Homo sapiens: one gene and its partner. Changing the gene in region 1 together with any one later gene gives a genetic interaction. Each region holds a gene or a part of one and is shown on either strand. Other genes may lie near its edges. The genes, in order: DBF4 and ATR.

Evidence for each region.
Region 2: changes in DBF4 (region 1) and ATR are lethal when combined (synthetic lethality), as found in Homo sapiens cells (one large-scale study listed by BioGRID).

Annotation. Positions count from the first base shown.
Region 1 is NC_000007.14:87,896,987-87,900,812, forward strand, and holds part of DBF4 (protein DBF4 homolog A), read left to right. Parts: intron 1-307; coding exon 308-353; intron 354-3,234; coding exon 3,235-3,363; intron 3,364-3,777; coding exon 3,778-3,826. UniProt on the Homo sapiens protein: Regulatory subunit for CDC7 which activates its kinase activity thereby playing a central role in DNA replication and cell proliferation. Required for progression of S phase.
Region 2 is NC_000003.12:142,453,033-142,456,858, forward strand, and holds part of ATR (serine/threonine-protein kinase ATR), read right to left. Parts: intron 202-3,826; coding exon 96-201; coding exon of another isoform or gene 24-95; exon of another isoform or gene 1-23. UniProt on the Homo sapiens protein: Serine/threonine protein kinase which activates checkpoint signaling upon genotoxic stresses such as ionizing radiation (IR), ultraviolet light (UV), or DNA replication stalling, thereby acting as a DNA damage sensor.

The DNA of each region.
Region 1 (3,826 bases):
ATGCTAAATTTCAGTTTGAGGTTAGTGAAGACAATAGTGTAGTTTTTCTCCTGTTCTAATTTATGACCTTCCTGAATCCTGTTAATTTGAGGGTTCCATTTAGTTTAAGAATCTCAGAATATAGGAGAGAGCTTCTGTTATTTTTGGAAATGAGGTGATAATGGAAGTACCTCATCTGAGGCTTAAAACTTTAAAGTGGATACATAGTTTTTTGTTTGGAGGGTTTTGTTTTGCCACAGTAGTTTTATTAAAAAAAAAAAAGAATCCTGAATTTGCAAGTATCTAATATGTTTTCTATGTTCTCAAGCAGGAAGACTCAAAAAGCCTTTTGTAAAGGTGGAAGATATGAGCCAGTAAGTATTTAAGTCCAATCTGTATGATTTAAGTGCAATACTAAAGAGGAAAATCACCTAACTAATTAGGCTAGCTCGATTAGTACTGTTAGGTTCCTTTGTGTTTGATTTATATTATACTAATGTGCATGCGGCACAAGTTAACGAAAGTAGCATTAATTCATTTGTGCTCAAGGACTGAATTTAGTTTCAGTATGTTGTAGATATTCCTGAAATAGCTGGTTTAGAAAAATCATGACACCGTTTTTTTAGTATTTAAATTATTCTCTGGCTAAATGCAGTACCAAATGATTTAGAACTACTGAAAGATTACGCCTTCATTTGCGAAAAAGAAATTATTAGATGCTATTTAGAAACAGAAAATCTAAGTATAACATCTAACATGGTTGATTTCCAAAATTCTGAAGTATTGTAGGATAGTCTTGTTGTTGTTGTTGTTTGTTTTGATTTTTTGAGATGGAGTCTTGCTCTGTCACCCAGGCTAGAGTGCAGTGGCACGATCTCGGCTCACTGCAACGTCCACCCCACCCCCGGTTCAAGCAATTCTCCTGCCTCAGCCTCCCAAGTAGCTGGGATTATGGGTCTACGCCACCATGCCCAGCTGATGTTTGTATTTTTAGTAGAGATGGGGTTTCACCATGTTGGCCAGGCTAGTCTCTAACTCTTGACCTCAAGTGATCCGCCTGCCTCAGCCTCCCAAAGTGCGGGGATTACAGGCGTGAGCCACTGTGCCCAGCCATGTGGGATAATCTTAATGAAGACCACAGATATAAATAGGCCTGCCATGAGAGAATTAGATTACTTTCTTTTTTCTTTCCACTTATTCATTTAGACATCTGTGGTTAATTCTCTTGGGTACTCACACTGAGGCGACAAAAGTGTATTGAAAACTGCTTTTTATGAAATGTGTTGCTGTGAAGAAAAAAGTGCAATTCAAAAGGAGGCCTAGAAAAGACACTAGTATACGAAAGGACATCCCATGTTCATGAATTGGAAGATATAATATTGTTAAGATGTTAATACCACCCAAAGTGATCTACAGATTCACTGCAATCCCTATCAAAATCCCAATGATGTTTTTTGCAGAAATAGTAAAAACGTATCCTAGAATTCATACGGAATTGTAACAGATGCAGGAAACCCAAGACAATCATTAAAAATAACAACAAAGGCCAGGCGCGGTGGCTCACTCCTGTAATCCTAGCACTTTGGGAGGCCGAGGCAGGCAGATCACGAGTTCAGGAGATGGAGACCATCCTGGCTAATACGGTGAAACCCTGTCTCTACTAAAAATATAAAAAATTAGCCGGGCCTGGTGGCGGGCACCTGTAGTCCCAGCTACTCAGGAGGCTGAGGCAGGAGAATGGCGTGAACCCGGGAGGCAGAGCTTGCAGTGAGCCGAGATCACGCCACTACACTTCAGCCTGGGGGACAGAGCAAGACTCCGTCTCAAAAAAAAAAAAAAAAAAGAACAACAAAGTAAGAGGTCTCACACTTTCTGGTTTTAAAACTTACTGTAATGCTACAGAAATCAGAACAATTTGGCATTGGAATAAAGACATATAAACGAATGGAATAGAATAGAGAGCCTAGAAATAAACCATCACACATATGGCCAAATGATTTTCAACAAGGGTATGAAGATAATTTAATGGAGAAAGGACAGTCTTTTTTAACAGTGTTGAGAAAACTAGATATACACATGCAAAAGAATGGCATTAGACTCCTACCTCACATCATGTTCAAAAATTAACTCAAAATGGACCAAAGACCTAAAATGGTAAAACTCTTGGAGAGAACACAGGGGAAAAGCTTCATGACATTGGATTTGCAGTGCTTTCCTGGACGTGACACCAAAAACACAGATTACAAAAGATAAAATAATTAAATTGGACCATATCAAAAATATAAATTTCTGTGCCTAAAGGGATATAACAGTAAAAAGGCAACCGAAAGGATGGAAGAAGATACTGCAAGTCATGTATCTATTTCTTTTTTTCAGCTTTCTCAGGTTGAACAAGTCATATATCTAATAAATGTTAATATCCAGAATATATTAAGAATTACAAGTCAACAACAAAACAACCCAATTTTAAAAAGGGGCAAAGCGCTGAATAGACATTTTTCCAGAGGTGATACACAAATAGCCAATAAGCATATGAAAAGATGCTCAACATTACTAATCATGAGGGAATTGCAAATCTAAACCACAGTGAGATACCACTTTACATTATTTAGGATGGCTACTATTAAGCAGCCAAAAAGTGAAAGTAATCCAAGTCCATCAGCAAATTAATGGATAAACAGTATGCAGGATGTGTGTGTACACACACTCAATGGAATATTACTCAGCCTTTAAAAGGAATGAAATTCTGACACGTGCAACATGGATAAACCTTTAAGACGTTATGCTAAGTGAAATAAGACAAAAAATACTGCATGATTCCACTCCTGAAGCATCTACGTTAGTCAAACTGATAACAAGAAGTAGAATGGTGGTTGTCAGGGGATATGGAGAAAGGATATTTGGGAAGTTACTGTTTGATGGGTATAGAGTTTCAGTTTTTGCAAGATGAAAATACGTCATCTTACAAAAGATGGACGGTAGCAGTGATGGTACCACAGCATTGTGAATACTTAATGCAACTGAATTGTACACTTAAAATGGTTAAGGTAATAAATTTTATGTGTATTTTACCACAATTTAAAAAATGTTTAAATGTTAAAAATTGTTAGGCCTGAAATTGATTTTTTGAAGGAAAGCCTAAATAATTTGTTATTTCAGATTCCAGCTTAATTATATGATTTTGAAATACAAAACTTTAAACCTTTTTTCTTTAATCATAAAGAATCTCATGTATTTGTCTTTTTATTCTTCTAGACTTTATAGGCCATTTTATCTTCAGCTGACCAATATGCCTTTTATAAATTATTCTATTCAGAAGCCCTGCAGTCCATTTGATGTAGACAAGCCATCTAGTATGCAAAAGCAAACTCAGGTTAAACTAAGGTTGGTTTGAATCTTTACTTTTAGAAGGAATATTCAGAATTTCATCTCAATTTTTCTTTGTAAAGATTTGAAATAGTTTCATTTATGCCATAATGGTTATTTGTGTTTGTAATTACTATTCTGATTACTTTTATAAGTCTGAATCTGTTTAGATGGAGGTGGGGAGGGCCTTAAAATATTTGTGAATAATGAAAATGTGTAGTTTATCTTGAATGATCTGAAATATTCTCCAGAATATTCATTAAATCTTTAGTTTGCTTCTCAATATAGTATAAAGAAATATGATTAAAAGTACTTGCTGATACAAGTCTCTGCAAATTATGCAGATTGTGTGTGATAGTTTAGGACAATAAATTTTTAAAGTTATTCCTTAGGTTCAGCAGTTAATTCTTTACCATGTATGTCTGTCATCAGAATCCAAACAGATGGCGATAAGTATGGTGGAACCTCAATTCAACTCCAG
Region 2 (3,826 bases), on another chromosome or scaffold:
GTTCTCATGCATAGAGATGAGAACTATAGCTGCATATCAAGTTCATTTGTAGAGATGAGGACTACAGCCCATATCAAGCTATACCTTCTACTAACCTTTTCATTGACAACTTCTCCAGTTTCATTCAGTGGCGCTTTGGAATGCCCTTTCACTGGTTTACTCCATTCCACAAGAGGATCATGTAGAAAAGTCTTTAAGACACTAAAATTGAAACAAATATTATGGTATGATGTTATCTTTGCAAGAAGAAATCTTGCTGACATCAATATTTAAGTGAAGGATGAGAAGCTAATGGTAATACTCTTATAATACACATTACTACGTCTTCATTAAGTTATGTGAAATTTCTGTTTTGGTGTGAGGGGAGGGTAAGAGAAGGGAAGGCAGGAAAAAAGGCAAGATAGAGGGGAGTCAGAGGTGTTTTGGAGAATAGAGTAAGATGGGTTCTATGTGCCATCTCTAAGTGTATACTGTGAACTGGTAAATGACTATATTTTGAATGAAGGAATTTTATCCCTTACCATGTCTTCAATAACGATATAACATCTATAGCTACCATATAGACCTAGCCCAGACCTTTTTTCTGCACCCTAAACATCAAATCCAATTACCTATGGGAAATACCCAGTTGGATATGTTCCAAACACCTCAAACTCAGTATCTCCAAAATAAAATTAATTACCTTTTCCCAACTATTTCTCCTGTATTCCCCAAATCATCATCCACCCATTTGCCCTAGACAAAAATCTAGGAATCATCCTCACCCCGTCTTCCTCTAACATGCAATTACAACTCCTAAATCTCTTTGGAATCTCTTCAGTTATCTCCGTCTCTACGGCCGTGACACTATCCAGTACACCATCATCCTTTCCTGGGTTACTGCAATAAACCTCTAACTAGTTTTCTGGCTGTTGGCCCAAACTAGGACCCTATTTTTTCTACAGTACAAATCAGATTATCTCTTTCCACCCCTTGCCCCCTTTTTATTCCTTCTTAAAATCCTCAATGACTTCTGGTTGCTCTGCAGGCAAAGTTATAATGTAGTAACAGGCCCCATGTGAGACCTTCATAATCTAGCCCCTGCTTACCTGTCCTGCGTCATCTCTTAGCACCACCTCCTGGAAGTATACCCTCTGGAATACATACTGTATTTCTCAGGCAGGCCATGACTTCACTTGCCTTGATATTTTTATCACTCAGAACACTCTCTTCTCCCTTGCATGGTCAACTTTATTAACTTTTAAGGTCTCAACTACTTCCTCCAGAAATTATTTCTTGACTGACCCAGACTAACACAGGGGCTCTTGGTAACTGTTCCACATGATGATATACTTCCTATTTCAGAGAATTTGCTTTTGCATATGTCCAACTAACCAGTATTCTACCATAATGTCTGATAGACAGCTTTTTTTTTTTTTTTTTTTTTTTGAGACGGAGTCTCGCTGTCGCCCAGGCTGGAGTGCAGTGGCGCAATCTCGGCTCACTGCAGGCTCCGCCCCCTGGGGTTCACGCCATTCTCCTGCCTCAGCCTCCCGAGTAGCTGGGACTACAGGCGCCCGCCACCTCGCCCGGCTAATTTTTTGTATTTTTAGTAGAGACAGGGTTTCACCGTGTTAGCCAGGATGGTCTTGATCTCCTGACCTCGTGATCCGCCCGCCTCGGCCTCCCAAAGTGCTGGGATTACAGGCGTGAGCCACCGCGCCCGGCCCGATAGACAGCTTTTAAATAATGAAGGTGAATAAATAAGCTTTAAAAGTCCTTTCAAACAATCTGTTTCCCACAGCTAACATCATACTTAAAAGTCAAAGACTGACTGCTCTACCCCTAAGATCAGGAACAAGACAAGGATGTCCACTTTTAGCATGTCTATTCGACACTGATTTAGTTAGGGCAAGTAGGCAAGAAAAAGAAATAAAAGGCATTGATATTAAAAAGGAAGAAGAAAAACTGTATCTGCAGGTGACATGTTATTGTGGAGAGAAAATCTTAAGGAAGGCACAAAAATAATTATTAGAACTAATACATGAATTCAGCAGATTGTAAGATACAATATCAATATATAAATATCAATTATATATCTATGCACTAGCAATGAACAATCCAAAAATGAAATTAAGAAAAATTCCATTTAGAATAAAATCAAAAGGAATAAAATACTTAGGAATACAATTTTTAAAAGTTAAATATAAAACTTGACCCTAAAAACCACAAAACATTGATGAAAAAAATAAAATTCAAATAAATGGAAAAACATTCTATGTTCATCGATCAGAAGACTTAACATGGTTAAGACAGCAATACTCCCAAATTGTTAAGACAGCAATACTCCCTAATTGATTTACAAATTCAATGTCCTTCCTATCAAAATCCAAGCTGATTTTAAAATTAATATGGAAATACAAGGGACCCATAATAGCTAAATGATCTTGGGGGAAAAAAAGCAAAGTTGGAACACTCACACTTTATGATTTCAAAATTTACTACAAAGGTACAACAATCAAAACACTGTGTTGTTAGCATAAGGTTAGGCATATAGATCAACAGAATATTGCTGAAAATCAATTGACCATTTCAACAAAAAAGCCAAGATAATTAAACGAGGGGCAAAATATTCTTTTCAAAAAATGGTGCTGTGACTAATGGATATGCACATGCAAAAAAATGAATATGGACCCCTACCTTACACCATATCTACAAAATAACTGAAGACAGATAAAAGATTTAAATAGCAGAGCTAAAAGTCAAAAATGCTTAGAAGAACACATAGGTGTAAATCTTCATGACTTTGGATTAGGGAATAGTTTCTTAGATATGACAACAGAAACACCAAAAATAACCAGAAGAAAAAAACAAATTAGACTGCATCAAAATTTAAAACTTTTATGTTTCAAAGGCCATCATCAAAGAAAGTGAAGAGACAACCCACAGATGGAAGAAAATATTTGAAAATCATATCTTAAAAGGTCTTGTATCCAAAATGTGTAAAGAACTCTTGCAACTTGGCTGGGCGGGGTGGCTCATGCCTGTAATCCCAGCACTTTGGGAGGCTGAGGAAGGTGGATGGCTTGAGCTTACGAGTTCAAGACCAGTCTGGGCAACATGGCAAAACCCCTTCTCTGCTGGGGAGGCTGAGGCAGGGAAATCACTTGAACCCACGAAGCGGAGGTTGCAGTGAGTGGAGATCACGTTACTGCACTCCAGCCTGGGCGACTCTGTCTCAAACAAAGAAACAAACTCTTGCAACTCAAGAATAGGCCAGGCATGGTGGCTCATGCCTATAATCCCAGCACTTTGGGAGGCCAAGGTGGGAGGATCACTTGAGGTCAGGAGTTCAAGACCAGCCTGGCCAACGTGGTAAAACCCAATCTCTACTAAAAATGCAAGAATCAGCCAGACATAGTGGCTCATGCACACATGCTGTCCCAGCTACTTAGGAAGCTGAGGCACGAGAATCGTTTGAACCCAGGAGGCAGATGTTGCAGTGAGCCAAGATCACGCCACTGCACTCCAGACTGGGTGACAGAGCGAAACCCTGTCTCAAAGGAAAAAAAAAAAGAATAAAAAAACCCAATTTAAAAGTGGGCAAAGGATTTCAATAGACATTTGTCCAAAGATGATCTACAAATGGCCAACAAAGACATGAAAAGATGCTCACCATCACTGGTCATTAGGGAAGTGCAAATTAAAACCACAATGAGATACAACTTCACATCCCTAGAATGGCTAAAATAAAAAAGGCAGACAATAACCAGGATAGATAAAGATGTTATCTAAAGATAGAAAAGATGCAGAGAAGTTGAAACCCACATACATTACTAGTGGGATT